6 linked regions of the Homo sapiens genome follow. The protein of the gene in region 6 purifies or fractionates together with the protein of the main gene of each other region. This does not show direct contact. Each region holds a gene or a part of one and is shown on either strand. Other genes may lie near its edges. The genes, in order: TRAP1, AADAT, TXNDC5, KYAT3, TXNRD2 and PGD.

Region 1 (5,482 bases), on a different chromosome or scaffold from region 6:
TGGCATGACCTCAGCTCACTGCAACTTCCGCCTCCTGAATTCAGGCAGTTCTCCTGCCTCAGCCTCCTGAGTAGCTGGGACTACAGGTGCATGCCACCATGGCCAGCCAATTTTTGTATTTTTAGTAGAGACGAGGTTTCACCGTGTTGGGCAAGATGGTCTCAATCTTTTGACCTTTTGATCTGCCTGCTTTGGCCTCCCAAAGTGCTGGGATTACAGACATGAGCTACCACGTCGGGCCTGACAAAGAATCTTGATAGCGATTGAAAATGTATCCATTCATACTCAAATGAAGTAAAAAGTGCTTTTGGGTTCAAAGCCAGAGAATGTTCATGGATGGCGTTTTTGGTGCCTCAAGTGTAGCCAGCTAGAACTTTTCTTACCACCGTCCTGCTTAGTCCTACTGAAGACCTGCCTTCTACTAGGAAGCTGCTCTTAGTCCACAAAGTGGCTTCCCTGTAGTTCCACAGCATTTAACAAAATAGATTTCAGGGAGTTTATTTGTGGTGTGGCTGGTTATTTCTGCTAAAACCACTAGGAATTACCATAAAAGCTGTAGCTTGGAGAAACAGTATCTACTTGCGGGAGTATTACTGCCACCTGTGTTTTTTTTGTTTTTGTTTTGGTTTTTGTTTTTTTTTTGTTTTTTTCAAGATGGAGTCTTGCTCTGTTTCCCAGGCTGGAGTGCAGTGGCACGAACTCGGCTCACTGCAATCTCCACCTCCCGGGTTCAAGCAGTTCTCCTGCCTCAGCCTCCCAAGTAGCTGGGGCTACAGGCATGCACTACCGTGCCCGGCTAATTTTTGTATTTTTAGTTGAGGTAGAGTTTCACCATGTTGGCCAGGCTGGTCTTGAACTTCTGACCTTGTGATCTGCCTGCCTCGGCCTCCCAAAGTGCTGGGATTACAGGTGTGCGCCACCGTTCCCAGCCCTGCCATTGGCTTTTTAACCAGGTGAATTCCTGTAGATTGGGTAGATTGAAAGGACATGTAGCTGAATCATTGGTTTTAAAAGGAATGGCTCAGTTACTTCATAGCCATATAATTAAGAAATGTGGCTAGAAGGTAAAAAATTGGCCAGGCCTGGTAGCTCATGCTTGTAATCCCAGCACTTTGGGGGCTGCGGCGGGAGGATCCTGTGAGTTTAGGAGTTTGAGACCAGCCTGGGCAACCTAGAGAGACCCCCATCTCTACCAAAAAACCCTTTTTTTTTTTTTTCCAATTAGCTGGGTGTGCCTGTGGTCCCAGCTACCCAAGAGGCTGAAGTGGGAGGCTCCCTTAAGCCTTGAGAAGTCGAGGCTGCAGTGAGCTGTGATCACGCCACTGCACTACAGTCTGGGTGACAGAGTGACAGTGTCTCAAAAAAAAAAATATATATATATATATATATATACACACACACATATAAAAGAAATTAATTTTGAGATAGCTAAATTAAATGCCATATTAAGAGCAGGAGGCTATTCAGCAATGCTGCTGAGAAGAAGACAGAAGGACGTGGGTCCTTCTAATGTAACTATGTGTGTCGGGTTAGTGATATGCACCTCGAAGGAGAAATTAAGACAGCACATTGCCATGTTAGTTCACACTTGCCAGTATTTCAGCATTTGTCAGGCAATGGAATGTTCAAGCGAATTTTCCACGAGGCTGACTTTAAAACATTTCATTTTAACCATTATGATGAGAAGTCTTTCTAGAACACTCCATCATTTGATGGCCCATGACTGAACCTCTCTTGGATGTTTTCAGGGTCATTATTACGGGTGTTAATGTTTGGTCTTCTGTTTTAATATGTAGGCTCCCGTAGGGCCATTGAAATGTGAAGAATCCTTCGTCTATGAAGTGTCCCCACATCAAAACTGCATTGTGAGTGTTTATATTTTTGGCCTCTCTTACTGTGGCCTTAACTTGCAGGTCTGTCTGGAGCCCTGTTCTCTCCTTTCCTAGTTTGCAGATGTGGCTGGGAAACTTGTTAGCATCAAATTGTTAGAATGAGATGGATTTCATATGGGGCCAGTAGTCTTCCATGAGCAAAGCTCAGGGTGAGGGCTTCAGGCCCATATTTTGACTATTCCGAGGTGCCCTTTCGCTTTTTGTTCTTTTTCTTTATGTTCAAGGAGTTATGTTTCCTGATGAATGAAGTATCAGTATATCATAGTAGAGAACGATTAGACCAGGTTCTGGAACACAGGAAACCTCAAGAAACAGTGAGTGTTGAGAATGCCAGAGCTAAGAACTCAGACATTTGTGAGGGAATACAGGTCTTTCTGTTCAGAATGTTCATGTACTTAAGAATCTTCTCGCCAGGCGCGGTGGCTCACGCCTGTAATCCCAGCACTTTGGCAGGCTGAGGCGGGTGGATCACCTGAGGTTAGGAGTTTGAGACCAGCCTGACCAACATGGAGAAACCCTGTCTCTACGAAAAATACAAAACTAGCCGGGCGTGGTGGCGCATGCCTGTAATCCCAGCTACTTAGGAGGCTGAGGCAGGAGAATCGCTTGAATCTGGGAGGTGGAGGTTGTGGTGTGCCGAGATGGCGCCACTGCACTCCAGCCTGGCAACAAGAGCGAAAACTCCGTCTCACACACACACACAAAAAAAAGGGAAACAAAGGTAAACTGGGAAGGAACCGTGTGTAATCTTCCGTACCTTGCATTTTCCACTTATATTCTGGGGTTTGTTTCCTGTCGCCACAGAGCTCTGGTATTCCATAGCGAGGATGTTTTGTAATTTATGTAACCCTCTCATGGCGGACATTTAGGTTGTTGCTGAGTTTCCCCAAGATAACAGACGGCATTGCCAACAGTTTCTCACACCTTCACCAGTGCTAGAATGACAGTATTTAAAACATCTGTCAATCTGGTAGTGAAAATGCTATCTCGTTTTAAAGTGCATTTCCTTAGTTATGAGTGTGGTAAAACATCTTTTACTAGGACGTAAAGCCATTGATGTTTCTTGTTTTTGTGAATGGCCATTTTTCTCTTGAACCAATGGCCTTTTTCTTTTTTTTTTTTTTTTTTTTGAGATGGAGTTTTGCACTTGGTGCCCAGGCTGGAGTGCAGTGGCGTGATCTTGGCTCACCGTAACCTCTGCGCTAGCCCTTTTAAATAACTTTTAAAAATTGAGACAGTGTCGGGCCAGGCACGGTGGCTCACGCCTGTAATCCCAGCACTGTGGGAGGCCGAGGCGGGCGGATCATGAGGTCAGGAGATCGAGACCATCCTGGCTAACACGGTGAAACCCCATCTCTACTAAAAATACAAAAAATTATCTGGGCATGGTGGCGGGCGCCTGTAGTCCCAGCTACTTGGGAAGCTGAGGCAGGAGAATGCCGTGAACCCAGGAAGCGGAGCTTGCAGTGAGCCGCGATCGCACCACTGCACTCCAGCCTCGGCAACAGAGCAAAACTCCATCTCAAAAAAAAAAAAAAAATTGAGACAGAGTCTGACTCTGTTGCCCAGGCTGGAGTGCAGTGGCGCCATCTCACCTTACTGTAACCTCCGCCTCCCGAGGTTAAGCAGTCCTCTCGCCTCAGCCTCACAAGTAGCCGGGATTACAGGCACGCGCCACCATGCCCGGCTCATTTATTTTTATTTATTTATTTATTTATTTTGAGATGGAGTCTCGCTCCGTCGCCCAGGCTGGAGTGCAGTGGTACAATCTTGGCTCACTGCAACCTCCGTCTCCCAGGTTGAAGCATTTCTCCTGCCTCAGCCTCCCTAGTAGCTGGGACTACAGGCACCCGTCACCACGCCCGGCTAATTTTTGTATTTTTAGTAGAGATGGAATTTCACCATGTTGATCAGGCTGGTCTTGAACTCCTGACCTCATGATCCATCCGCCTCAGCCTCCCAAAGTGTTGGCATTACAGGTGTGAGCCACTGCTCCTGGCTTTCTGGCTAATTTTTGTTTTTTTTTGTATTTTTAGTAGAGACAGGGTTTTGCCATGTTGGCCAGGCTAGTCTCAAACTCTTGACCTCGGGATCTGCCCGCCCCCACCTCCCAAAGTGCTGTGATTACAGGCGTGAGCCACGGCACTAAATTTTATTTTAGAGGCAGGGTCTTGCTTTGTCATCCGGGCTGGAGTGCAGTTGTGCGATCCTGGCTCGCTGCAGGCCTGACCTCCTGGACTCAAGTGATACTCCTGCCTCATCCTCCCAAGTGGCTGTGACCTCTTCCTCCCAAGGAGCATGTGCCACCATGCCTGGCTAATTAAAAAACATTTTTTTTAGAGATGGGGTCCCACTATATTGCCCCGGCTTGTCTTGAACTCCTGGTCTCAAGTGATCCTCCTACTTCTGCCTGCCAAAGTACTGGGATTACACGCAGGAGCCGTCGTGCCTGGCCCCCAGTTTTTTTCTTAATGTGTTTGTCTTTTTTTTTTTTTTTTTTGAGTTAGAGTCTCGCTCTGTCTGTTGCCCAGGCTGGAGTGCAGTGGCACGATCTTGGCTCACTGCAGCCTTCGCTTCCCGAGTGCAAGCAAGTCTCCTGCCTCAGCCTCTGGAGTAGCTGGGATTACAGATGCCCGCTGCGACTCCCAGCTAATTTTTGTATTTTTGGTAGAGACGGGGTTTCACCATGTTGGCCAGGCTGGTCTCGAACTCCTGACCTCAGGCGATCCACCCACCTCAGCCTCCCAAAGTGCTGGGATTACAGGCATGAGCCACCTCACCCGGGTGTTTGTCTTTTGACTTAAATTTTTATGTGGTCCTTATATTTATGGCCTTTTGGGTTATATATTTTGTTTAGAAACATTTCCTCTTAAGGCCGGGCGCGGTGGCTCACGCTTGTAATCCTAGCACTTTGGGAGGCTGAGGCAGGTGGATCACGAGTTCAGGAGTTTGAGACCATCCTGGCCAACATGGTGAAACCCCGTCTCTACTAAAAATACAAAACATTAGCCGGGTGTGGTGGTGGGCGCCTGTAGTCCCAGCTACTTGGGAGGCTGAGGCAGGAGAATGGTGTGAACCCGGGAGGCGGAGCTTGCAGTGAGCCGAGATCCCGCCACTGCACTCCAGCCTGGGCGACAGAGCGAGACTCCGCCTCAAAAAAAAAAAAAAAAAAAGATTTCCTCTTAAATCATTTTTTTTAAAAACTCAAGATGCCTGGCAGTTTAGGAACTGCAAAGCAAAACTACAGTGAGTTAGCACTTCCTACTCACTAGGGTGGCTATAATTAAAAATTAAAGAAACAACAACAAAAAAACAGGTGATACAAAATGGATAACTAGGATGTGGAAAAATCAGAACCCTCCCACACTGCTGGTGAGAATGTAAAACGGTGCGACCTCTGCAGGAAAACATTCTTGCAGCTCCTCACACAGTCAAACCGAATTACCATATGACCCCACAGTTCTACCCTGAGGCACATACCTTGTAGACATGAAAACATGTCCACAGAACAGCCTACACATGAATGTTCATAGCAGCATTATTCATAATAACCCGAAAATGAAAACAATCTGAAGGTCCATCAGAAGGTG
Region 2 (5,482 bases), on a different chromosome or scaffold from region 6:
ATTGCTGTTCTGAGTTACCTTGAAGATCACTGAGTTTTCTTAAAACTGCTATTTTGAATTTTTGGTCAAAAAGCTGACAAATTGCCATCTTGTTAGGATCAGTCACTGGATTTTTGCTTTGTCATTTTGGGGAGGTCATGGTTTCCTGTTGGCTATTGTTTCTTGTATGTATACATCAGTTTTTTGCATTAAAGGATTAGTTATTTATTCTAGTTTTGTTTGTTTGTTTGATTTGTCTGGCTTGCTTTGCTTTTTATTGGATATATTTGCTTAGTAAATCTCTATTGTTGGGTCACTGCTTCCTTGTTGGCATCTTCCAAGGTGGCACCTTAAGTCCAGGTTTAGTAAATAATTCGAGAACAGCCTGTCCCAAATCAGGGAGGTCCCAAAGGATTTATTCCATTGGCATGAGATGGCTAGCAAAAGAATTATACCCAGGAACCTCTGGAACATTCCTCCTGCAGTGTGGTGCTGCTGAACAGTCACTCTGTTTTGGCATGCCTTTCGCTGAGTTACAGTGCAGAGTTTCCAGGGCTTGGGATGGTAGTCCTGCCTCCCGATTTTGTCTCTGCCTGTCCTCAGGGATGTTTTTCCCTCCAGGCAGTCATGATGCTTCCAAAGGGTTAAAGGCAAGGACAGGTCTCCAGCCAGGGAACCAAAGATGGTGGGGAAAACTCTTGGCCACCTCAATCTCACTTTTTCCAGTGTAGAAGCCGTGAATTAGGGGGAGTTTTTCCACGTGCTTGGTGCCAGGCAGAATTGGGAGGAGGGGTATCATAGATGCTGAAGTATGCCTTTCTTACCATCTGTTCAGAGTTTTTTCACTTCTCTGTAGTCCTAGGAACTGACTCATCCTCATATTTGAGTTCTGGGTTGTTTCTGGTGTAAATTTTAGCACTGTATATTTGTTAGTGGTTTTGTGGGAGGGAATGAAGTCAACTTGCTTCTACACCACCATTTTGGAACTGGAAGTCTCCCCCACCCTTTTGAAAACACTGTCCTCCTCTAGCTCTCTCAGTAGCATGTTGTGTGGTTCTCCTCCAGCCCACTTTCCCTCCCTTCCTTGCAGTGTCCTCCTCTACCCAGCCATTATTTATTGGAGTTCCCTGTAGCTCAGTCCTTAAACATCTCTCCTTAGTCTATGTACTTTTCCTGGGTATCTTCATTTACATTCACATGATCAACCATATGCCAGTAACTTCCAGGCTCCTTCCAAATCCATTTGTCCATCTATCCATCTGACATCATCACAGGGTGTTTCAAAGGCACCTCACACTAAAACAAATCATCCTGTCACTCAGATATGGATGGCTTTTTGGTTATGTGTTTCAGTGAATGGCACCACCCCCACCATCTATCTAGTTCCATAACCAAGTATCTAGGCATCATTCTTGACACCTCCTCTTCCTCATTTCCCTATTGTCCATAATCATGTTCCATTACTTTTCATTTCCTAATACCTCTCAGTTCTTCTCTACAATTCCTCTGTCACCACTCTACTTTAAGATGACCCTTACCTGTTCCAGGCCTGTGGCAGTAACTTCCCAAACAATCCTAAAAACTTTCTAAACTTTCCACATGTATTCTCACCCTTCTTTCATTCTTTCATACTGCAGCCAGATTGATCTTTTCAAGACGAGTATCTAATCATGTGACTCCTCCTCCCCACTCTCTTCCTAAAATCCTTACTTGCCTCCCTTGGCTCAAATGCCTACATGGTTGGTCTCTGCCCACTTCTGTCTGATGTCACACCACTCTTTTCTCTACATTCTGCCTCAAGACACATAATTATTTTGGTTTTTCAAATCTAACTGTTGTTACCCCGTACACCAACTCATCGCTTCCTCCAGGATGCCTTCCCTGAATTCCCTGAATGCCTAGGTCTTCCTACAATGAGCTCTTATGTCATTGTGCATCTGTACTTAATATCACTCACCACCGTTTTTAATTTGCACATTTATTGGGTAGTTATTTAATTGGTGTCTAGCTTTCCCAGTGGACCAGTAGCTCCATGAGAGTAAGAACCATGTCATTTTGCTATTTTATCTCTGACACTTTACACAGGCCTGGCGTATAGTAAACATTTAATAGATTTTCAAAGAAGCAATAAAAGGAATAAATGAATGTTAGCAGCCAAACCTCTGTTCACCTTTCTCTGGAACAGGAGTTGGCAAACTATGGTTTGAGAGCCAAATCCAGCCCTTCATCAAATTTTGTAAATAAAGTTTTATTGGAACTCAGTCACACCCATTCATTTATATATTGTCTATGGCTACTTTTTCACTATAGAGGCAGAGTAGTTGCAGGGTAGTTGCAACAGAGATACTATGACCCGCAAAGTGTTTACTGTTTGGCCCCTTATAAACAATTTGCTAATTCTTACTCTAGAACCATGTGAGCTCAAACTAAAAAATGGGCTTCTGAGCATGGAAACAGTACTAACCTATGCTGACTAACAAGCTAACCTATGCTTCTTTTGTTAGGTGTTTGAAATGATCATTAATCCTGGAGATAATGTCCTCCTAGATGAACCTGCTTATTCAGGAACTCTTCAAAGTGTGAGTATACATTTTTACTAAAGGCAACTCTCTTGTAGTAAATAAGAAGAAAACTTATAATAAAGGTTTTATAATAACTTTATTATAATAAAGTTAATATCTTATTAACTTTAAAATAATCTGTCCACAGAAAAATGAAATAGCATATTTTATCCATAAGCAGGATAATCTTAAAGGATATATACAAAGTATGTGAAATGTATTCTCTTCTTTATACATTTCTTTTTTGAAATCCAAGTGTATAGGCATTAAAATTAGATTATGCAAAATCATGTCCAATTCTCTTAATATTTTACTTGAAATGTAACTTAAATTACAAAAATTTATTTTTTATTACTATCTTATTACCATATGCATAAGTACAACTATGTTATATGTCAGTTTAGTATACTTATATGGTATAATGACGACTTTCCATTCCAAGGTTAGATCCGTGGAACTGTGATTTACAGAATGAGGAAGCTGATGATCTGACTCTGCTCTGCACTGGTCAGAGCACATTGCTGAGCATTAGGTTTGTTTGGGGCAGTCTACTTTAAGACAGAAATGTCCACAACTGGAGCATACTCAGAGAAAGATAGTCAGAGTAAATAGGGAATTGGAAGCCATATCATATGATGAATGGTTGTAGGAACTGGAGCTATTTTCCCCAGAAAGAAAAGACTCAACAGAGGCATGAAAACTGTCCTCAAATACATAGAAGTTAGCCATGTGACAAAAGAATTAGATTTATTTGTACATGACCTTAGGTTAATAGAACTGGAACCACAGGGAAACAATTTCAGCTCTGTATAAGAACTTGCTAACCATTGGCCTTACCGGACTTCATAATGGGTTACAACATTGCCCATCACTGTAGGTGCTCAGTCACTCTTGACTGCCACCTAACACAAATATGGCTAAAGTAATTCTAGCTTAGAGTAGGGGAATTCAATGCGATGACTTTTATGCTCTATTGATTCCAACTTCATGGATCCTTTTATTTTTTTCAAATTTTATTTTATTTTTATGAAAATCAACATATAAAGCAATATATAAAACAATTCCATTTGTAATAGCATCCAAAAGAATAAAATACGTAGGAATAAATCTAACAAAGGAGGTGGAAGACTTGTACATTAAAAACTGAAAAATTTTGCTGAAAGAAATTAAGCAAAACTCAAATAAATGGAAAGACTTCCACAGTTCATAGATTGGAAGACTTAATATTGTTAAGATATTAATACTACCCTAAGCAATTTACAGATTCAATACAATCCCTATCGATATGCCAACAGCCTTTTTTGTAGAAATGGAAAAGCCAGTCCTCAAATTGATGTGAGTTTAAAGGACCTAAATAGCCAAAATAATCTTGAAAAAGAACAAATTTGGAAGACCCCCACTTCCCAATTTCAAAACTGCAAAGCTGCAGTAATCAAACAATGTGGTACTGGCATAAAGACAATCATATAGACCAATAGAATAGAACTGAGCATCCAGAAATAAACCCACAAATCCAGTTGATTTCAGTAAGGGTGCCAAGATCATTCAGTGGGGGAAAGGATAGTCTCTTCAACTGTGGTGCTGGGACAACTGGATTTCCACATGCATATAAAAGAACTTGGACCCTTACTTCACACCATATGAAAATTTAACTCAAAATGGATCAAAGACCTAAATATAAGGGCTAAAACTACAAACACTTAGGACATAAGGGCAAATTTTTATGACCTTAGATTTGGTGGATTTTTTAGATATGACCAAAAATATGAGCAACGACAACCACAAAAATAGATAAATTGAACTTGAAGATTTAAAAGTGGTTGTGTATCAAAGGACATTATGAAAACAGTGAAAAAAGAGTCTATACAGTGGGAGAAAATATTTATCATAATATATCTGATAAACCTTTAATAACCAGAACATATAAAGAACTCCTACAACTCAACAACAGAAAGATAAACAACCCAATTTAAAAATGGACAAAGGACTTAAATAGACATTAGTCTGAAGAACATGTGCAGAAGGCCAATAAGCACATAAAAGATGCTCAACATCATTAGTAGAGAAATGCAAAGCAACATAAATCAACGTATGAAAGCCGCAAGTTCCATGATCGTGTAGTGGTTAGTACTCTACAATGTGTGACTGCTGTACCTGCAGTCTGATTATTTGGCAAGACTCAGGCTTGGGGAAAAAATTTTTTTAAATAGAGAAAAGCAAATCAAAACTACTGTGAGATACTACCTCACACATACCACGATGGCTATTATTTAAAAAAAAATAGTGAATATGTGAAGAAACTGGGTTCATTCACTGCTGGTGGAAGGAAATGTAAAATGGTATGGCCACTGTGGGAAAGTTTGTCAGTTCCTCAGAAAATTAAAATATAATTACCATGTGACCCACAATTCCACTCATGGCTATATACCCAGAAAGGATTGAAAACTGGGACTCAAACAGATACTTGTATACAAATGTTCATTGCAATATTATTTACAGTAGCCAAAAGGTAGAAGCAACTCAAGTGTCCATCAGTGGATGAATGGATAAATAAAATGTGGTATATACATACAATGGAATATTATTCAGCCATAAGAAGGAACACAGATCTGATACATATTACAGTATGGATGAACCTTGAAAGCATTTTAACTTTAAGAAGCCAGACACAAAAGGACAAATATTGTATTATTCCAATTATATGAAACATCTAGAATAGACAAATTAGTGGAGATAGAAAGTAGATGAGTGGTTACCAGGGGCTGGGGAGAGTAGAGAATGGAGAGTTATTGATTAATAGGTACAGAGTCTCTATTTGGGGTGAGGAAAAAGTTTTGGAAATAGACAGAGGTGATGGATGCACACATTGTGAATGTAATTAATGCCACTGAATTGTACTCCTAAAAGTAGTTAAAATGGACTAGACGAGGTGGCTCACGCCT
Region 3 (5,482 bases), on a different chromosome or scaffold from region 6:
AGGCGTGAGCAGACACAAGCCCAGGTGACCACGCTGAAGCCCTTCATCCCTGGCACATGTGGCTGGGTTACACTGGACCCTTAAAAATGCTTGTCCTCTCCCGACCTTGGGCTGAGGCCTCTTGTACTTCAGTTCCGCACCTTAGCTGCTCTCTGACGGGTCTTAGGTGTTGAAATAGTATTTTTACCCCCGTTTGCTGACATAGTGAATAACAACTTAGTCCTGCCTATTTTAGTGCTGGTAGAAAATAAAAAAGAAAGCAATGACTTAGAACAAGATGTTTCATGAAAATGTTGGGCAAGCAGCAGCTTTATGAGATTTAAATGAAAGAAAAAGCTTGAAGAGCTGTGCTTGTTGGTAAATTAAGTTTATAAAATTAAGGACGGATTATAATCTTGACATCTTTGCAGTCTTACCTTTATTATATACCAACTACTCCTGTTTAAAATTCACTTCTTGCTCCCTGTTGATTTTAAAACCCTCTAAGCTTCAGCATGAGAGTAAATTCTAAGCTGGCATGTGAACTGGTCTGGGTCCCAGTCACCGACAGCCAGGCTAACCCCCCTCCCACCACCACCAAATGTCAAGCCAGGGCCCTGACTCAAGCTACCAGGTGCTGACTTTACTTGCTCGAGTTAAAATGTTGCTTCCTAAAAACCGGCATGTTTAACTGAGCTATTAATACAATAAATCTTGCCTCTAAAGTCTTTCCTTTACTCCTTTTAGCTCAGGTATGTTTTAGCATAGCTTTCAGGAACATTCTCTTCAAAAACTGCACCTTGCTGGCAGAGTTGCTACAGAATGTGGATTTTGAAAAGAATATTTGTAACGTACAAAGTGTCCAGTAGCCCCATTAGCAAGAAGGTTCATGAAGAAACTGACTGGGAAGTTGATCTGCTTTTATTCTCAGGTTGATTGTACACAGCACTATGAACTCTGCTCCGGAAACCAGGTTCGTGGCTATCCCACTCTTCTCTGGTTCCGAGATGGGAAAAAGGTACGTCTGCACTTCTTAGTACTGAGAATTCTTCATCTCTTAACCCCATCAGGCTGAGCTACTGAGTGGTTTAATGGGCACAGTGAATTGCCAATCTTGATTGTTAGGGCACTGGTTTGGAGAAATGTGTATAATGAAACAAACGTCTTTCTCTTAATTGATAAGATTTGGGTTGTGGAGATGAACCTTGAAACATTTCAGTGGCCCAGGTTATCACTAGAATAACCCACATCTTACAGTCACAGGGTAACTGTGCTCTGGTTGTAAACACAAACCTTCAGGCCTTTGAACAGAGCTAAGGCTTGCACTTGGTCCGGTTCTGCCTGCCTCCCTCCCTCCTTCCCTGGCCGATGGTCAGCAGCTCAGAGTTCCCCATCAGCACAACGGCTTGCTGGCAGGCCTCTGCCCCAGACTTCTGTGATGTGTAACCCCGTGGAGGGAAGAGGGGCCTGTACAGTTCTCTCACCAAAGCCGAGGCATTCAGTTATCCTCTCTACATTCCCGTCTAAATATGAACATGCAGACTTTGCACCACCGCTAAGACATCTGGGAGCTCTGACCCGGGCAAGCAGGGGTTGCAGGAAGGCTTAAGTGATTCAGAACACCTCAGTGGACTCACTCAGCCGCGTGCCCGTGTCTTGGCCAGGTGGATCAGTACAAGGGAAAGCGGGATTTGGAGTCACTGAGGGAGTACGTGGAGTCGCAGCTGCAGCGCACAGAGACTGGAGCGACGGAGACCGTCACGCCCTCAGAGGCCCCGGTGCTGGCAGCTGAGCCCGAGGCTGACAAGGTGGGTGCCTGCTGGAGTCGGGATCCCCATAAGTGGCCCGTGGCCCCCGGCCCCCCACCTCCCCACCCTCAGAGGCCTCCTCAAATGCTTTGGACAAAATGACAGTTTGGGGACACAGTCATCTGATGGTTGGCTCCAGTTGCGTTTTCAACACGTATTTTTCATCGACTTTCACATGCTTTCAGGGGCGAATGCAAACAAAAGCTTTCCTTTTGAAAACATGAAATGGATGTGAGACAAATCCCAAGACAATATTTGGTGTCAAAAATCTCTAGAGAATCCTTCCTTTCCGCTTCATTCATTTTAAAGAATGACTCTGCTGGGCATGTTTCTGCTATGAAATCTCGACTGCTGGCCCCGGGGCCCTGATTCTATTCCTGACCTTGCTCCGGGCATTTTCCTTTACCCGTTGTAAAGGCCCCTAGAAGACCTGTAGCCAAGAGGGCATCCGCAGCGATCAGGCCAGTGACTGTAGCTGTAACCTGCCTAGGCAGTCCTGATGCACTGAGGGGCTTCCTTCCTTCACTCAGGTAGCAGGAGGTTTCAGATTCATTTGTTCTGCTTTATGAAGCCCTTGTTATGTCACAGGCACTGTTCTAGGCCACCAGGGAATAAAAATAAGACCGGTTTCCTGCCTCTGAAGCATACAGGTCTCTGAGGCAAATGGTGAGAAGACACACAAGCCAATGGCAGGGGGCTGGGGCAGAAATGTGTGCAGGGCTTGGCTGCTAGAGAGAAGTGGGGGCAAATGGGCAAGAAGTGTCCCTAAGGAGCTGATTGACGGGATCTGTGCTGGACAGATAGGCTGGGCAGGGCTGCCACTGAGGGGCTGCACCAGGAGAGGCACAACCCGAGAATCAGCCGGCATTTCTGCAGGGCCAGAGCTGGGGCTGGGGGAACACAGTGGGAGACAGGTCAGGGTGTGGTGTAGGATCCCTGAGAGTGAGAGAGGAGCTGGAGTTGAGAGTCTGTGGGCAGCTGGCCAAGGATTAGGAACTGTATCCCATATTGACAGGGAGCCCATGGAGGCTCTGTGCAGATTGGAGTTGTAGGAAAATGACCGGCATGCACGTGTGCTGGAGGTGGGAAGCTGCTCTATTAGGCCTTTAAAGATGATGCGTTCCCTCATGCTGCAGCCGTGACTGTGCGATGGCGAGGAGGAGAAAGCCAGCATAAGGAGTCCAGCCGCTGTGCAGCGCGGAGAGGGAGGGAGGGTCCGAGGCGAGTCTGATTCCCGCATATCTGGTGGAGGATGGTACCCAGCACAGGGGCGGGGCCAGAGCTCGAGGAAAGGGATGAGCTTGGTTTTCAAGGTGTTGATCTTCAAGGCTTTCGGCTGTGTAGGTGGCAGTGTCCAGTGGCAGTTCCAACCATGAGCCTGGGGCTGCGGCAGGAGGTCTGCACTGGACGAGAGTGCCCGTGTCATCCTCTTCAGGTAGAAGTCATGCCTGAAGGCCAGGAGTTTGGATTTGGAAAAACCAGTGGGGCCACCAACCCCTCCTCCCTGGTGGGGCCACACCAGGCCTCCTCACCCCTACAACCCTGTCCCTAGTTGGGCTCTTGTAGGTCGGGGATGGCCTGAGTGTTGTTTAAAAGTTGACGTTTTGGTTGAAGAAGTAAACAGCTGATTTTGTAGTTGTCAGGACCACTTATGTTAGAGGAGTGTATGTGTCATGGTGGTTACAAAGGTCATCCCAAATTGAGTATAATTATATACCACGGATGTTTTCATCGCAGCACCATTTCTATTTATAATGCAGTTTTCCACCATGAAGTGGGTCTTTTCAGTGCGTGTGGCGTCATGTTTCTGGACATAAAGATGGTAGTGTTCCACAGTGGCCCCCTTGGCCTCCGTCACTGACATGTTACTCGATGCCAGACTCAAATGGAGCAGCCCTGGTACACTTAGCCACGTGATAAATCATCCCATTCCTGCTCTCAGGAGAGAATCGCAGATCCATTTTTGGAGAAACACATAGACGTCATTCTGTAAAGAACTGTCAAGGGAGAATGGCTTTAAAGCAGACTACCATGTAGCACCTTTCCCTTAAATTCTCCAGCCAGAGCTTCCATCAGCGTTTTTCACATTGACTTAGAACAGGCTGCTTTCCATTTTTATGTTCAATGTAAAACAGGTATCATTGCCTTTGCTATTGTAACTAGGTTCTTTCTGTTGCATAGAGAGGATGTCACAAAGGGTGCTAGGAGAATAGGGTGGCCAGTGAGAAAAGCGGCTGAGGATGAGACTTCAGTGGGTATCCTGGAGACTCCAGGCTTAGAGGTGCAGACTCAAGTGTCAGACACCCAGGGCTGCCTGGTCCACACCACAGCGCCCTGGAGAGTTTTCAACCTGCCTCATCCCCAAAAGACAGTCCCCCTCCCCACCTTCATCCCCTGTACAGTGTCCAGCCACCTCCTCACCACATCTCCCAGGCTTGGGACCCAGGGACTTGCATTGATCTCTCTGCCCTTCAGAGGCTGCCAGCCTCCCTTTGTGTGTAGCCTATGAAATGCAGATTGTGTAGGTATTTCTGTGTGACCTTGGAGCCTACGTAACTGCATTTTTAAAAAATTACTGATTCGTGTATCTGCAATCCCAAAGCATGGCCCTGCTCAACTTTAAGGGATGTACTTGAACTGTGGCTTTTTCCTCCCTTGAAGGGCACTGTGTTGGCACTCACTGAAAATAACTTCGATGACACCATTGCAGAAGGAATAACCTTCATCAAGTTTTATGCTCCATGGTAAGTGGCTGTTTAATTAGAAACTACTTTGTCCATGTGTACTAAGTCACATCATGTTTTTCAGCTCATCTGCCACCCCTCCAGACTCAATGTTGGGCACATGTTACATTTATATGTAGGTCATGTTGTAGGAAATAAGGAACCGTTATCATGCTCCTATATTCAAATATTTTAAACTTCAATGGCCTTAATTATATATGGAGAATGAGGCTACAGTTATATCAACTTTGATTATATATGGAGAATGAGGCTAAAGTTATATCAACTTTGGAGAAAACATAAAAATGGAGGCAAATTATGATGGCCATATTCAGTTTTGTGGTATCTGCACTTTTCCAAATAGATGGCTTTTCTTTTTGGCTAAACAATGAGTGTCATGATGTAGCTTTGCTCCTCGGTTCTTTTAAGTACTCGGATTTCTTTTGTAGAGAAATCCAGTAGAGTCTGTTAGAGCCATTCAGTATGCTACGCAGTTTCCTGAACCTGCATGCCACGTGGTCTTGGAGACCAGAGCAGAAATGGATTGCAGGTAGTGTGAGATCCAGACAACCTTGGTTCTAAGACTTACCGTGAATGACTGTATAGTAAACTTGGATGTCCTTTAATTCCTTTGAACCCCAGTTCCCTCAGCTGAAAAATGGGAGTAACTTTTTGTCTTCACAAATAAAACAATCCATTTGGAAAAGCAGAGTGTTAGGACAACAGTAGATTGTTTATCTAAACATGATAAAGGCGTCACTTTTCTTGTTTGTTACACTCCACATGTTCCTGAGAAACTAACCATAGGGGTAAAAAGTTAATAAGCACAGGACTTGAACGAACCATAGCAATGCCTTTCAAATCATTTGCAACATTTAAAAACCTAAAGCTCCACAGATCAAGTATCAAAAAGGAGGATCCCCTTTGGCTGAAGGGGAGCCATCCATACGGCAGGAGGGGGTCAGAAGAGAC
Region 4 (4,657 bases), about 79 Mb from region 6:
AATAATAGTCAAAATGTTCCCATATTTGGTGAAAAGCAACTTATGTCTAAAAAGGTCAATGAAATACAACAGGATAAATATTTTAAAAGCACAATTAGGTACATCATAAACTGCTGAAAACAAAAGTGAAGATAAGATATTAAAGGCAGCCAGAGGTCAGGTGTAGTGGCTCATGCCTATAGTCCCAACATGTTGGGAGACCAAGGCGGGAGGATTGCTTGAGTCCAGGAGTTCAAGACCAGCCTGGGAAACATAGTGAGATCCTGTCTTTATAAAAAAATATTTTTAATTAGCCAGGCTTGCTGGCACATGCCTGAGGTACTCACTATTCAGGAGTTTATGGTACAAGGATCACATGAGCCCAGCACGTCCAGGTAGAAATGTTAACTAACTTCTTATCAGAAACAGCGGAGACCAGAATACAATGAAATAACATCATCTGAGCACTGACATAAAAAAAAAAAAATAACAGCCTAGAATGCTATATCTAGGAAAATAGCCTTTAAAAATGAAAATGAAGTAGATATCCCTGACAAATGAAAGCTGAGAGATTTATCACTATCAAACTTCTCCTTTTTTAAAAGGTTCCAAGTGTGTTACTGCTGTTTTCAAAATGTTGTTGGTACTGAAAATAGTCTTACTGAGATCAAGACACTCTATCAACTCACTCATCTTTAAACCTAATGAGAATAACATAAACACTGTTTTCAACTTTCAGAGACAACCGATAGCCAGACTTGCTCAGAATAGAATATAAATATTAACAACCTAACAATGTAAACATTCAATTGACTGAAATTTTAAAGAACGGTAATGCTATTAATATCCTTCATCTTACACTGGATTGAGAAATAGTGGTATATTATTTGAAATTGTAAACAAAACTAACAGAAGAAAGAAGTAACGTAGGACTTCCAGTTTTAAAATGGTAAACCCAGCCCTCCCCTAATCTCTTTTTAGAAATTATTTAAAAACAACTAAGAGAATAGAAAACAAATTCCCCAGTGTTTAAGGAAAGGCTGCTAAATACTGTGAAGGTGATGGTAGAGGGAAGATCCCTAGAAAGGATCCTGCTTTTACATCTTCAAATTACAGACAAAGCCAGCAGGCAGCATACTCATTATTGAGAACAGTAGGAGCAGTCGCTGCACTGGCAGCAGGAACTTCTCTAGACCGTTTGGCATGATGGAGGAAACGGCAAAAACATACAGTCATGTCATCTGGAAACTATGTAAGGCAAGGTGGAAAGGAGACTCTGGTTGGTCTATAGATTTCCTCATTTACTCCTGTCATTTTGCTAAAAGCTATGTTGAAGCAATGCGGAAGAGATGTATTAAACTGGGGATAGCCAATTTAATTATTTGGTAAGAACTGTGGTCTAAAAGAACTCCCACCCACTGAACCCTACATCAACTGTATTAAATTTTACTATGAGACAAGGAGAATTTCTGCTCTTTTCTGGTGCTGCCCCAGCTTCTCCCTTATACAAATCAGCAAATCTATCTTCAAATCACAGACAAAGCCAGCAGGTAGCATGCTTATTACTCAGAACAATAGGTATAGTGCATGCTTTGGCAGTGGAAAACAAAGAATTCAATCAAAAATGATTAATAATCAAAGAGGAGGGGCCAGGTGCGGTGGCTCACACCTGTAATCCCATTACTTTGGGAGGCCGAGGCAGGAGGATCACTTGAGGTCAGCAGTTCACAACCAGCCTGGCCAACATGGTGAAACCCCATCTCTACTAAAAATACAAAAAATTGAGGTGGGTATGGTGGCACATGCCTGTAATCTCAGTTACTTGGGAGGCTGAGGCATGAGAATCACTTGAACCCAGGAGGCAGAGGTTGCAATGAGCTGAGATTGCTCCACTGCACTCCAGCCTGGGTGATGGAGTCAGACTCTGTCTCAAAAAATATAATAACAATAATAATAATAATAAAAGAGGAACCAACTGTGAATCTATATAGGACAGTATAAGGAAAAGAGAAAGGTACAAGGAAAAACAAGTGTTAGAGAATATTCGCCCAAAAAAAATGTTGCCATGGAGCAAATAAAATTAGTGCTATTTCAGATTTAAAACCTTTAAAATGAGAAAGCAGAGATTTTACGAATTCAGGGAAGATAGAGTAAGATATTATAAGAAGATCAAATGGGAGCTATCAGAGTTCAGGTAGGAAATTGAAAAGAAAAAATAAAGCTATTGGAAATTATGGTGACATTATTAATAGAAACACCACAAAGAACACTAAATACTTCTGTAAGGACATTAAGGATGGAGATAAGTGAGCAAAAGGAAGTAGAAAGGAACAAATAATTTTTAAAATATTAGGCAGAAAAATTATTGATGCAGAGGAAAAATAAAATATGTGGAGTTGCCAGAAAAAAATAAGAGCAGAACAAATGGAACCTGCATATAATAATAATTGTCACACAATTATTAACACTGAGATATACCTCGCTTGATATATTGGGCTTCAAAGACAATTCCTTTGGTCACCTAGACAGTAAGATCAAGGCCTCCAGAGGGGCCAGAAGAGGAGGATCAGTATGGACCCAGACTCTTCTTACATCAGCAGTCAATATTGGCAGATAGTGTGGAAGTAGCTGGAAGTTTCTAGGGAAAGTGGACACACCTAACTCCACCTCTTAGAAAGACTAAAAATCAAAGAATGACAAAAACATACCAAGAAAATAGAAATTGAAAGAAAGCAGTTTGAATTCAGAGCAAAATAAAAGTGATAAAAGTAAATAAATTTAAGGCAAAAATAGCACTTTATAATATTATGGGTAAGATCCTTAGTAGTTGTTAAACTTATAAAAGTTGTCAAACTTATTTCATAGTAAGGGAAATGAAAAATAGAACTGCAAAGAAATTTTATCTCTTAGATTGGAAACAACCAAAACAACTAAAAGTTTCATAAAACACTCTCACAAATTGAGAGTGGGAGTATAATTTGTAAAATCTCTATGGTGGTTAGTTTGAAAATTTCTGTTCAGATGTGATTTCCCATACCCTTTGATCCAACAATTCTACCTCTACAAGTGTTTTCTTGTGGATTTATTTGCACATTTCGAATGACTTATATTCAAGGATTTTCACTGAGGCATCATTTGTAATAGCAAAATATTGTAAACAACAAAATTATTCACCAGTGGGGGCTGCTTGAATAAATGATGCTACATTCAGATCAACCTAAATGCCCATCAATGCTGTCATTGGATAAAGAAAATGTGGTACATATACACCATGGACTACTATGCAGCCATAAAAAAGAATGAAGTCATGTCTTTTGCAGGAACATGGGTGGAGCTGGAGCCTATTATCCTTGGCAAACTAACACAGGAACAGAAAACCAAATATCACATGTTCTCTCTTATAAGTGGAGCCAAAAATAATGAGAACTCATGAACACAAAGAAGGGAACAACAGACACTGGGGCCTCCTTGAGGGTGGAGGGTGGGAGGAGGGAGAAGAGCAGAAAAGATAACTGTTGGGTGCTGTGCTCTTAATACCTGGGTGATGAAATGATCTGTACAACAAACCCCTGTGACATGAGTCTACCTATGTAACAAATCTTCACATGTACCCCCAAACCTAAAATAAAAGTTAAAAATAAATAAACAAGAACAATAAAAAATATACAATTTTAAAAAGAAAGATGGATGAAAATCTCTGGAAAAATATATAATGAAATCCCAGTGTTGTCTCTGGAGAGAAAAACTGAGTGGCTGAGGAAGATAGGTGGGAAGCTGACTTACTTTAAAACAAATATTTTTAAATGCTCTCAACCTAAAAGTTTCAAGAACTTTTTTCTAAACTATTTCAGAGTAAGTTGTCAACTTAATTACTGAGGATGCTCCGATCACCCCCATATACTTTCTTGTGTATTCTTCATAAACAAGACATTCTCCTCCCAAACCACAATATAACCCTCAAAATCATGAAGTTAACCTTGATACTCCATCTAATCCTCAGATCTGATTTAAATGTCATTCATTGTCCCAATAATGTCCTTTTTATAATAATTAATTAATTCAGGCTAGAATCATGCATTGCATTTAGTTGTCATGTCTCCTTCAAGCTAGAATGGTTTCTCAGTTTTCTTTGACTTTCATGATCTTGATACTTTTGAAAATTATCAATGAATTATTTTTAAGAAAGTACCTCAATTTAAGTTTGATGTTTCCTCATGCTTAGACTCAGGCTATGCACTTCGGCAGGAAACCACAGAAGTGATGATACTCTATCCTTTTCATTGTATCAGGTGGCACATGATTTCATTTATTCCTATTACCAGTGATGTTAACTTTAACCACCTGATTAAGGTGGTGTTTGCCAGTCTTTTCTACTATAAAGTTATACTTTTTCTTGTTAAATAGTAAATATTTTGTAGTAAGGTACTATGAAAATATTCCATATCTCATTAAGCAATTTATTTATTAACTTATTCATATGTATCAATGTGGACTTCTGGATTTTTATTTTGTAGTACAGTGGGCTATAATTTATTATTATTATTACTTATTTTGATACTTAGATTTTCCCAGATTTGGCCACTAGTCATGTAACTACTAATTTAATCAATACTTCTGTATGGGATCAATCTCCTGTCAAAGCCACTGTGCATCCCTCACCTTCCCAGTCCCTGAGAGA
Region 5 (5,482 bases), on a different chromosome or scaffold from region 6:
AGAGCAAAACTCCATCTCAAATAAATAAATTAATAAATATTAAAAAGTAAAAACAACTGTTTTTATTTTCGAGTACAGTTATAGAGAGCAGATTCGTGTGGCATGTCAGCTGGTCTGTGTTAGAGTTACAAAGCAACTTTAAGGAATTCCAAACACTCTAGAAGAACAGGGAAGCCTCCAGCAGTCACCTGAACATAAATTCAAATGTGCTCTTCCCACGTCCCAGGCACCCGGTGGGGCCTCGGCGGCACCTGCGTCAACGTGGGCTGCATCCCCAAGAAGCTGATGCACCAGGCGGCACTGCTGGGAGGCCTGATCCAAGATGCCCCCAACTATGGCTGGGAGGTGGCCCAGCCCGTGCCGCATGACTGGTAAGGATCTGGCGCCGTGGCATTCCAGTGCTTTTCTTCTACTCTTGGGTGGAAGAGGAAGAGGAGGCTTATCCTCGATGAGCCCTCATGGGGAGTGGGCCGTAGGATGGGTTTCTCAGCCAGGGGCGACTCTGCGCTGTCTGCCTCAGACATTTGGGAATGTCTGGAGACAGTTTTGGTTGTCACTGGGGAAGGGTTTGCTCCCCTTTGCGGGGAGCCCAGGGATGCTACAGCCATGCACAGCACAGCCCCACCAAGAACAGTGCATCTCCAAGGCCAGGAGTGCGGGTGGGAGGCCGCTTCAGCTGAGCTCTTCTGGGAAGGGGACCACGTGGCCCAGCCACACCCACATTGGCTCAGATAGGCCTCTGCCTGCAGTGGGTAGCCTTTGGGGCACAGAGCAGCTGCATCTGGAGAGCCGTGGGTCAGAGCCCCTGTTTTCTGTGAGTCCAAAGGTCTGCAGCCCTGAGCCTGGGACAGGCGGTTGCACGTAGGGATGGATGTCACGTTTTGCCACCTTTAAAAGCACTCTTGTTTTTTGATATTTCTATGAATGTACCATTTGAATCTAATAGTCCATCGTGAGGCCCTGCAGCTAACACCTGTGTTGTGGATTTTACATTTTGTTTCGTATCTTCACAGGAGGAAGATGGCAGAAGCTGTTCAAAATCACGTGAAATCCTTGAACTGGGGCCACCGTGTCCAGCTTCAGGACAGGTACTGAAGCTCTCTCCGGGAATGGGCCGCCCTCTGGGCCTTCTCTTGGGCGTTCTGTGCCTGGACACACACTTACTTACTGTGCAGAGCATGCTCTGGCAGGCTCTGGGGGTTCATGTCCTGCTCATGGGTGGGGATGAGGACAAGGAGCAGATGGGAGTGACTGTAGGGGAAGGGGAGACTGCCCTTTGCTGCTGAGCAGAGCCTGGAGGTGCTGCCAAGGAATGAGTGAGGCCACATTGGCAGAATGGCCAGAGCCCAGGGCTGCACAGGGAGGAGGCGCTTGGGGCTGGAAGGCCTCAGGCCAGAGAGCGTGGACATAGCTAGGCCTGGGGCTAATATGTGGTGAGGGTCATCCCAGTGGCAAGCCCCCACCCCGTGAACCCCCTTCTTACTGCACACCTCCAGCTCCTTGGGTGTGGGTGCAGGAGCTTGGTGCTTTCCGCTGGAGCAAATGTCCCTACTTGGTCACCGTTCCTGTCAGCCCCTGGGGATCTCCAGCACAGAGGCCTATGCTCCCCTGGCCTACAACCTTCTCCTGGGGCTCAGCTGCCAGCACAGCAGATGCCTGAAACTGGTACCGCCTCTGGCCCAGCCTTTCTCCCGGGGCTGTGGAGGGGACAGTGGTCCCGCAGAGGTCTGGTGGCTCTCCTCATGCACCATTTGCTTGGCCCCAGGGCGGGTCTTCCTGGGGCTTCACAGCAGGCAGCAGTTTTGTGCTCACTAAATCCAGGAAAGTGGAGCCAGGAAGCCAACTGCTTGCCCTCCACCTGGACCTCACAAGCTCTCCCCTATCCAGGGAGCTAAGCCACATTGTGCTGTGGCATTTCTGTGTTTCTCTGTGGGGCTCTGTATCCCCTGGTACAGTTTCCTGGGGACAGCAGGCTCTGCCCTCCCTCCTCCCTGCCCTGGGCAGCTCCTGGACGGGCACCAAACAGGCCCAGCCCACTGCCTGCTCCGGAGCCACCTGCAGAAGGAGGCTGGGGCGCACCTGGGCTGTTTCTGCTTTTTCACTCTTCTGAAAAGTGCTGCCATGAGCATTGCCCGGCTGTGTCCCGTGGCAGCTTCCTGGCTGTCGAGGTGATTGAAGGGCTCTTGCTGTAGGAACTTCACGCAGCTCAGACAGCCCATAGAGGCACAGGCTTGCCAGTGGGGAGAAGGCAGGCTCAAGCAGGAGGCAGAGCCTTCCCAGAACCCTTGCTGCAGCACGGTCCTTTTGTCATTAGAAAGTGTTGGTCGGGTGCAGTGGCTCATGCCTGTAATCCTAGCACTTTGGGAGGCTGAGGTGGGAGGATCACTTGAGCCCAGGAGTTGGAGACCAGCCTGAGCAACATAGTTTTATTGCTACATCCCTACAAAAAATAAAATGAACTAGCCAGGTATGGTTGCCCATGCCTATAGTTCCAGTTACTTGAAACAAGGCTTCCGTGAGCTATGATCATGCCACTGCACTCCAGCCTGGGTGACAGAGTGAGAAGATGTCTTTAAAAAAAAAAAAAAGGGTGGGGCGCGGTGGCTCATGCCTGTAATCCTAGCACTTTGGGAGGCTGAGGTGGGTGGATCACTTGAGGTCAGGAGTTCAAGACCAGCCTGGCCAACATGGCGAAACCCCGTCTCTACTAAAAATACAAAAATTAGCCAGGCGTGGTGGCGCAAGCCTGTAATCCCAGCTTCTCAGGAGGCTGAGGCAAGAGCTGAGGCAAGAGAATGGCTTGAACCTGGGAGGTGGAGATTGCAGTGAGCCAAGATCGTGCCACTGAACTCCAGCCTGGGCGACAGAGTGAGACTTTGACTCAGAAAAAAAAAAAAGAAAAGAAAGCGTGGGTCATTTGTTTCTGTGCACTATGCTCCCAGCCACTGTTTTGCCAGCCTTGTCATGCCCGTTCTCTTGGTGTTACCACACCCCTGAAATCAGAAGGTGACACCATCTGGTGGGCACCACAGCTCCCTGCTGGAACATGTCCGGGTGATGAGGACTGTCCCCAAGAGAGGTCCAGCCACCTCTTGCTGCACACCAGGGCTGTACGTGGCCTCTTAGGACCGTGCTGAGCTGGCTTCCGTCCCTGCTTTGACACCTGTGGTTAACATGTCCCTGGGATCCCTGGGGGACAGGCGAGGTGCCCCCACATCCCCTCCATGCTTCTCAGCATGGTTGCCGCTTACCTCTTGGTCCATCTGAGCCACAGCACCAGGCCCTGCTGGGGGCTGGAGCTCCCTTTTACCAGTGTTCCCTATTGATCCAGTTGGTGAGGTTTAATTTGCAGAGGAAGTGTTTGAAAATCTTATCTTTATCTTTCAGAAAAGTCAAGTACTTTAACATCAAAGCCAGCTTTGTTGACGAGCACACGGTTTGCGGCGTTGCCAAAGGTGGGAAAGAGGTGAGCATCTGACTTACTCGCGTGGCTCCTTGTGGACCCTTCTGCAGACCTTGGGCACCAACTGCAGCTGTGTTTGGCCTGGGTGCTGTTCTTAGTAACACGTGCTGCTGGAATCAAAAAGGTGGCTTCTTTTGAGGCTGGGCACTTGTCTTTAACGTGATCAAATAATTTGCTGCCCTGCTGCTCGGAGTGGCATGGCAACAGGGTTGGTGACCACACCCTTTTTGCAGGATTTTTTGGGGATTTGAGGGTGCCTTGAAGTGCTTGGAGTTAGAACATCTCCCTGTGCTTTCTGCCTGTCCCCCTCCTGCCAGGCTGATGGTTGATGGGATTCCAGCTCCATAGGGCCTCTGAACTGCTGGCCAAGGGTCCACGCTACAGGGCAGGGGCCGTGGGAACTGCTGGCCAAGGTCTGTGGTGCTCAGGCCCTCCGGTGGGGTGATCACCATGCACCTGTCTGACCCACGGCTTTCTCTTTTTCTCCTCAGATTCTGCTGTCAGCCGATCACATCATCATTGCTACTGGAGGGCGGCCGAGATACCCCACGCACGTGAGTGTCCCCAGAGCATAGCGTCCCTGCTGCCGTGGCCCATTCCCGGCCTCTTTGAGGGATACGTTTTTACACACGTGCTTCCCACAGCAGCAGCTTGCACACCCTTTCCCCCTATACTCACTATCATCACTTTCTGCTTTCCAATTCTCTTGAATCCACACTGCTGAAATGTGGGGTCCCCAGTGGCCTCCACGCTGCCAGATCCTCAGGACAGCTCTCGTTCTGCTCTCCCCCTGCCCCGCTGGATCTGTCCCCTTCCACACCAGGATCCTGCTTCCTAAGTCTCCATTGCTGATTCCCCCTTTTCCCTTCAGCCTCAGAATGTTGGAACATTCAGGATATAAGCCTCATTCTTCATCTTCCTCCTTCACGTCCCCCAGTTTAAAAAAAGTTTGAAATAAAATTCACACGCTATAAAATTTAGCCTTTTTTAGGGTACAATTCAGTGGTTTTTAGTACATTCACAGAGCTGTGCGGCCATCAGTCACCACCATCCATTGCCAGAACTCCTTCCATCATCCCTGAACTGAAACTATTCCCATTAAACCCTACTCCCCAGCGCCTCCTCCCCCAGCCCCTAGAAACCACCACCTACTTTCTGTCTCTATGAATGTGACAACACTAGGCACCTCGTGTAAGTGAAATCGTACATGTAAGTCCTTCTCATGTAACTGGTACGTGTGTGTCCCTTAGTGACTCGTATGTGTGTGTCCCTTAGTGACTGGCTTACTTCACTGAGCATAACATCCTCCAGGTTCACCTACATTGTAGTGTGTGTCAGTATCATTCCTTTTTATGGCTAGATACTATTCCATTGTATGGATAGACCACACTTTGTTTATCTACTTGCTTGGATAAACACATGTGTTATTTCCACTTTTTAGCTATTATGAATAGTGCCGCTGTGAACATCTGCAAAGAAGTTTTTTGGTGGACTTCAGTTTTCACTTCTCTTGGGTTACACTTAGGAGCAGAACTGCTGGGTCATGTGGTAACTTTATGTTGAATCTTTCAAGGAACGTTTCAAGGAACCTCAGACTGTTTTCCACAATGACTGTGTTTTACATTCCTTCCAGTGGGGTGTAAGGGTCATGGTTTCTTGTTTCTTCACGTATCTTGTAATTTTTTTATTGAAAGCTGAACATTTCAAATAATTTAATGCGATAACTTTGGAAACCAGATTCTCCCTCTGCCCCAGGATTCTGTTGTTACAGCTGCTTATTTGGTGACTTTTCGGAACTGACTTTGTAGACTCTTATTCTTTGATGTATGTGGCCACTGAAGTCTTTACTTGGTTAGCTTAGTGGTCAGCTAAGAACTGCATGGAGATTTCCCTAAACTAAGAACTCTCCCGGTCTTTGCTGAGGGCTCTGTGTGCGTTTGGAGGGGATGCCTTCCACACTCAACAGGCAGCAGACAGCTCTGCCCTAGCCTTCACTTCCTGCTTCTGCAGAGATCAAGG
Region 6 (4,456 bases):
CTGAGCCATAACATAGGTGAGGAGGGAGGGGCCAATAGCTAGGAGCAATTTATTCATCACGGACTCAAGTATATGTGTAAGTATTAGGATCTCAGAATCCTACTCTCCTCCTGTGGATCCATATACCTCTTCCCCCAGGGTGGCTGGGCCCACCCCCTGCTGGGAGCCATCATTATTTGTGAACTAACAGGGAAGTCTTCCAGCTGCCCTCTCCCCCTCTAACAGGAAGGGTTTGCCTCATAGCCTGTTGCACCAGTCATCTTACAAAGCTTCCTTCTAGAAATGCTAAGTCATCCTGTGTGTGCATTTGGGCCAGGAGAGAGGTAGCTGCTTTTGTGTGTTTGGAGTAGGGTTAGCAGTCTCAAGCCATAGCTGCTCCTCTTTCCTCAGAAATAAAGTCCTCTGTTAGTTCCCTGAGATTTTACTTCATTTTGTCTATGGGGGAAAAAGTGGTTAAAGAGTCATTTATTCTAACTATAAGTTGTCAGTTGAGCAAGTCTTTTATAAGGAATACTTTCTGAAAATACTAAATGTCTTAATATTAAAATACTACATTGACTTTTTAATTCAAATGAAGTAAAGTGGTTAAACTTGAATGATTACGGCTATACTGAAAACCGTAAAATATAAAAACCTAACATTTTTTTGAGAGGTGAGTCCGTAAATGTGACTTATCAATGTAAAATCTTCAAAAAAAAAAATTAAGGTCCTCTAAATTGAATTTGAAATTTTACTCATGGACCAACACTGAGTATTCTACATAACAGTGGTTTTTATTTTATTTTACTGGTTTTAGAGACAGGGTCTCACTGTGTTGCCCAGGCTGGAGAGCAGTGGTGTGATCATGGCTCACTGTAGCCTTGAACTCCTGGGCTCAAGTGATCCTCCCACCTCAGCCTGCCAAAGTGCTGGGATTACAGGTGTTAGCCACCTTGCCCAGCCATAACAGTGGTTTCTATCTCTTCATTTTCCCTCAAAACTCCCTTTTGAATTTCATGTTAATCTTTGTGATTGAATACTCATGTTTGTATTGGAAGATTGTCTTAAGAGTTTTAGTTATCAAATTAACTGTTTAGAGCTTCTTATAAAAGTTCCTTCCGATCCATGTCAACTTTTGTGGCCTAAGGTTGAAACTTTCAGCTCTTTGTATAAACAGACTTTCCTGCTCCACCTTTCTTCTGGTTGCTGTGCGAACTTTGGTAATTTTCATGCGCATCCGTGTGAAAAGACCACCAAACAGGCTTTGTGTGAGCAATAAAGCTTTTTAATCACCTGGGTGCAGGCAGGTTGAGTCCGAAGAGTCAGCGAAGGGAGATAGGGGTGGGGCCATTTTATAGGATTTGGGCAGGTAGTGGAAAATTACAGTCAAAGGGGGTTTTTCTCTTACGGGCAGGGCCGAGGGGTCACAAGGTGCTCAGTTGGGGAGGTTCTGAGCCAGGAGAAGGAATGTCACAAGGTTAATCGCTCAGTTAAGGTGGGGCAGGAACAAATCACAATGGTGGAATGTCATCAGTAAAGGCAGGAACCAGCCATTTTCACTTCTTTTGTGATTCTTCACTTGCTTCAGGCCATCTGGATGTATACATGCAGGTCACAGGGGATATGATAGTTTAGCTTGGGCTCAGAGGCCTGACAGTAATCTGTTTCCTCTTCCCGATCTCCCCATGTAGGAGAAGCTGTCTTTGCTCGGTGCTTATCATCTCTGAAGGATGAGAGAATTCAAGCTAGCAAAAAGCTGAAGGGTCCCCAGAAGTTCCAGTTTGATGGTGATAAGAAATCATTCCTGGAGGACATTCGGAAGGTGGGACACAGTCCCTGGCAGTGGTCTTTGTTGGTCCTGCGGAAGGCAGTGGGGGTGGGGGTTGTGGTGGGAGAACACTCGAGGCCACAGGATGGCAGGTGGAATGAAGTTCAGCCTTGACTTGGATCTTGACTTACAATGTTTTCCTAGAATATTGGCCCTTCTGGGATCTCCACTGCTGATGAGAATAAGACTGGTAGACATAAGGCGGTCACTCTCCTAATGGCAATCCTAGTAGGTCTCTGTGTCACTCTTTAGGCACTCTACGCTTCCAAGATCATCTCTTACGCTCAAGGCTTTATGCTGCTAAGGCAGGCAGCCACCGAGTTTGGCTGGACTCTCAATTATGGTGGCATCGCCCTGATGTGGAGAGGGGGCTGCATCATTAGAAGGTAAGTGAGAGGCAGCCCAGGGTCCGACGGGAAGGACTCACACGGCTGTGCAGAAGTGCGATCTTAGGACACTTAGCTTGAGCAGTTTCCAGGGATGGGCACTTAGCCCCATCACTGGACACTGGCACAAGATAGGCTTAGATTATGTGGTTCCCTTCTTCACTGTACCTCAGTTGCTGTAACTAGATTGTCCACACTACACCTTTTTTTTTCTTTTGAGACCAAGTTTCGCTCTTATTGCCCAAACTGGAGTGCCATGATGCGATCTTGACTCACTGCAACCTCTGCCTCCCGGGTTCAAGTGATTCTCCTGCCTCAGCGTCCTAAGTAACTGGGATTACAAGGGCACGCCACCATGTCCGGCTAATTCTTTTGTATTTGTAGTGGAAACAGGGTTTCACCATGTTAGCCAGGCTGGTCTCGAACTCCTTGCCTTGGGTGATCTGCCCGCCTCAGCCTCCCAAAGTGCTGGGATTACAGGCGTGAGCCACTGCGCCCGGCTCCGCATTACACCTACTACACTACACCTTTTAAAGTACTTCTGTGAACTATCGTGCCCTCTGGCCTTGCCTCTTGGGAATTTTGCTCTGTATTTTCATTGAAAATGCCAAATCATAGAAAACGTAGCATTTCTACACATGACGTTACATCGTTCTCATGTTGGCTGAAGATTCATTTGATGAATCTGATTTTTCTGAAGTAGATGATTCTGGTGATTCAGATGATTCTAATATTAGTTCTCTTTAGAAATAACGCCAAGAATAGTTTTTATATTTTATTTTCATATTGAAAATCGTCAGATTTTCTTCAGCCTCAAAAAGCGTGTTTATGTAAAATTAAATGAGCGCTGGCAGCGAGCTGCACTTTTTTTCTAAACAGGAAAAGGGTTAACAGCTTGAAGAAATGAGAAATGTAACTTTGTTTCACTAGGGTATACATCGGCTTCCAGCTTACTTCCCTGTTAGAGTTAAGATTCATTGCATTTGGCCGGGCGCGGTGGCTCACACCTGTAATCCCAGCGTTTTGGGAGGCCGAGGCAGGCGGATCACGAGGTCAGGAGATCCAGACCATCCTGGCTAACACGGTGAAACCCTGTCTCTACTAAAAATACAAAAATTAGCCGGTTGTAGTGGTGCGTGCCTGTAATCCCAGCTACTGGCGAGGCTGAGGCAGGAGAATCGCTTGAACCTGGGAGGTGGAGGTTGCTGTGAGCTGAGATCGTGCCACTCCACTCCAGCCTGGTGACAAAGCGGGACTCCGTCTCAAAAAAAAAAAAAAAAAGACTCATTGCTTTTTTCCCCCCTTGATTATTTCAGTGTATTCCTAGGAAAGATAAAGGATGCATTTGATCGAAACCCGGAACTTCAGAACCTCCTACTGGACGACTTCTTTAAGTCAGCTGTTGAAAACTGCCAGGTATGTAGCCTAGGGCTGGTGCCATGGTTACTCTACCTCCCTGGGGCCATCAGTTGTGATGTTTGGTTTTTTGTTTTTTTTTTTTGGTTTTTTGTTTTTTTGAGACAGAGTCTCGCTCTGTCACCCAGGCTGGAGTACAGTGGCATGATCTTGGCTCACTGCAACCTCCGCCTCCTGGGTTCAAGCGATTCTCCTGCCCCAGCCTTCCTAAGTAGCTGGGACTACAGGTGTGCCAACATACCTGGCTAATTTTTTTTTTTTTTTTGTATTTTTAGTAGAGATGGGGTTTCACCATGTTGGCTAGACTGGTCTTGAACTCCTGACCTCGTGATCCGCCCACCTCAGCCTTCCAAAGTGCTGGGATGACAGGCGTGAGCCACCGCGCCTGGCCTAACCATCAGTTTTTCATTTACCCACATTGATATGAATGAAAATCTATCCGCGTCACCAGGGGCAGATCACTAATCTCTGGCCGTGCGTTTTGTGCTCAGGACTCCTGGCGGCGGGCAGTCAGCACTGGGGTCCAGGCTGGCATTCCCATGCCCTGTTTTACCACTGCCCTCTCCTTCTATGACGGGTACAGACATGAGATGCTTCCAGCCAGCCTCATCCAGGTAAGCCTGTGGAGCAGGGATTAACCTGGCTGGCCCCTCGGGGGCGTGCGCCATGGACTGTCCTGACCAACCTACTCTCTCGTTTCCTAGGCTCAGCGGGATTACTTCGGGGCTCACACCTATGAACTCTTGGCCAAACCAGGGCAGTTTATCCACACCAACTGGACAGGCCATGGTGGCACCGTGTCATCCTCGTCATACAATGCCTGATCATGCTGCTCCTGTCACCCTCC

What was found.
Region 1: the proteins of PGD (region 6) and TRAP1 fractionate together in Homo sapiens (co-fractionation; one large-scale study listed by BioGRID). This does not show direct contact.
Region 2: the proteins of PGD (region 6) and AADAT fractionate together in Homo sapiens (co-fractionation; one large-scale study listed by BioGRID). This does not show direct contact.
Region 3: the proteins of PGD (region 6) and TXNDC5 fractionate together in Homo sapiens (co-fractionation; one large-scale study listed by BioGRID). This does not show direct contact.
Region 4: the proteins of PGD (region 6) and KYAT3 fractionate together in Homo sapiens (co-fractionation; one large-scale study listed by BioGRID). This does not show direct contact.
Region 5: the proteins of PGD (region 6) and TXNRD2 fractionate together in Homo sapiens (co-fractionation; one large-scale study listed by BioGRID). This does not show direct contact.

The regions. Positions count from the first base shown.
Region 1 is NC_000016.10:3,706,768-3,712,249, reverse strand, and holds part of TRAP1 (heat shock protein 75 kDa, mitochondrial isoform 1 precursor), read left to right. Parts: intron 1-1,847; exon of another isoform or gene 1,848-1,865; intron 1,866-5,482.
Region 2 is NC_000004.12:170,075,585-170,081,066, reverse strand, and holds part of AADAT (kynurenine/alpha-aminoadipate aminotransferase, mitochondrial), read left to right. Parts: intron 1-2,483; coding exon 2,484-2,558; intron 2,559-5,482. UniProt on the Homo sapiens protein: Transaminase with broad substrate specificity. Has transaminase activity towards aminoadipate, kynurenine, methionine and glutamate. Shows activity also towards tryptophan, aspartate and hydroxykynurenine.
Region 3 is NC_000006.12:7,885,010-7,890,491, reverse strand, and holds part of TXNDC5 (thioredoxin domain-containing protein 5 isoform 1 precursor), read left to right. Parts: intron 1-910; coding exon 911-997; intron 998-1,643; coding exon 1,644-1,787; intron 1,788-4,448; coding exon 4,449-4,531; intron 4,532-5,482. UniProt on the Homo sapiens protein: Protein disulfide isomerase of the endoplasmic reticulum lumen involved in the formation of disulfide bonds in proteins. Can reduce insulin disulfide bonds.
Region 4 is NC_000001.11:88,937,341-88,941,997, reverse strand, and holds part of KYAT3 (kynurenine--oxoglutarate transaminase 3), read left to right. Parts: intron 1-4,657. UniProt on the Homo sapiens protein: Catalyzes the irreversible transamination of the L-tryptophan metabolite L-kynurenine to form kynurenic acid (KA), an intermediate in the tryptophan catabolic pathway which is also a broad spectrum antagonist of the three ionotropic excitatory amino acid receptors among others.
Region 5 is NC_000022.11:19,913,749-19,919,230, reverse strand, and holds part of TXNRD2 (thioredoxin reductase 2, mitochondrial isoform 5 precursor), read left to right. Parts: intron 1-226; coding exon 227-371; intron 372-1,013; coding exon 1,014-1,088; intron 1,089-3,387; coding exon 3,388-3,466; intron 3,467-3,954; coding exon 3,955-4,017; intron 4,018-5,482. UniProt on the Homo sapiens protein: Involved in the control of reactive oxygen species levels and the regulation of mitochondrial redox homeostasis. Maintains thioredoxin in a reduced state. May play a role in redox-regulated cell signaling.
Region 6 is NC_000001.11:10,415,317-10,419,772, forward strand, and holds part of PGD (6-phosphogluconate dehydrogenase, decarboxylating), read left to right. Parts: intron 1-1,670; coding exon 1,671-1,801; intron 1,802-2,059; coding exon 2,060-2,193; intron 2,194-3,509; coding exon 3,510-3,609; intron 3,610-4,100; coding exon 4,101-4,223; intron 4,224-4,313; coding exon 4,314-4,433; 3' UTR 4,434-4,456. UniProt on the Homo sapiens protein: Catalyzes the oxidative decarboxylation of 6-phosphogluconate to ribulose 5-phosphate and CO(2), with concomitant reduction of NADP to NADPH.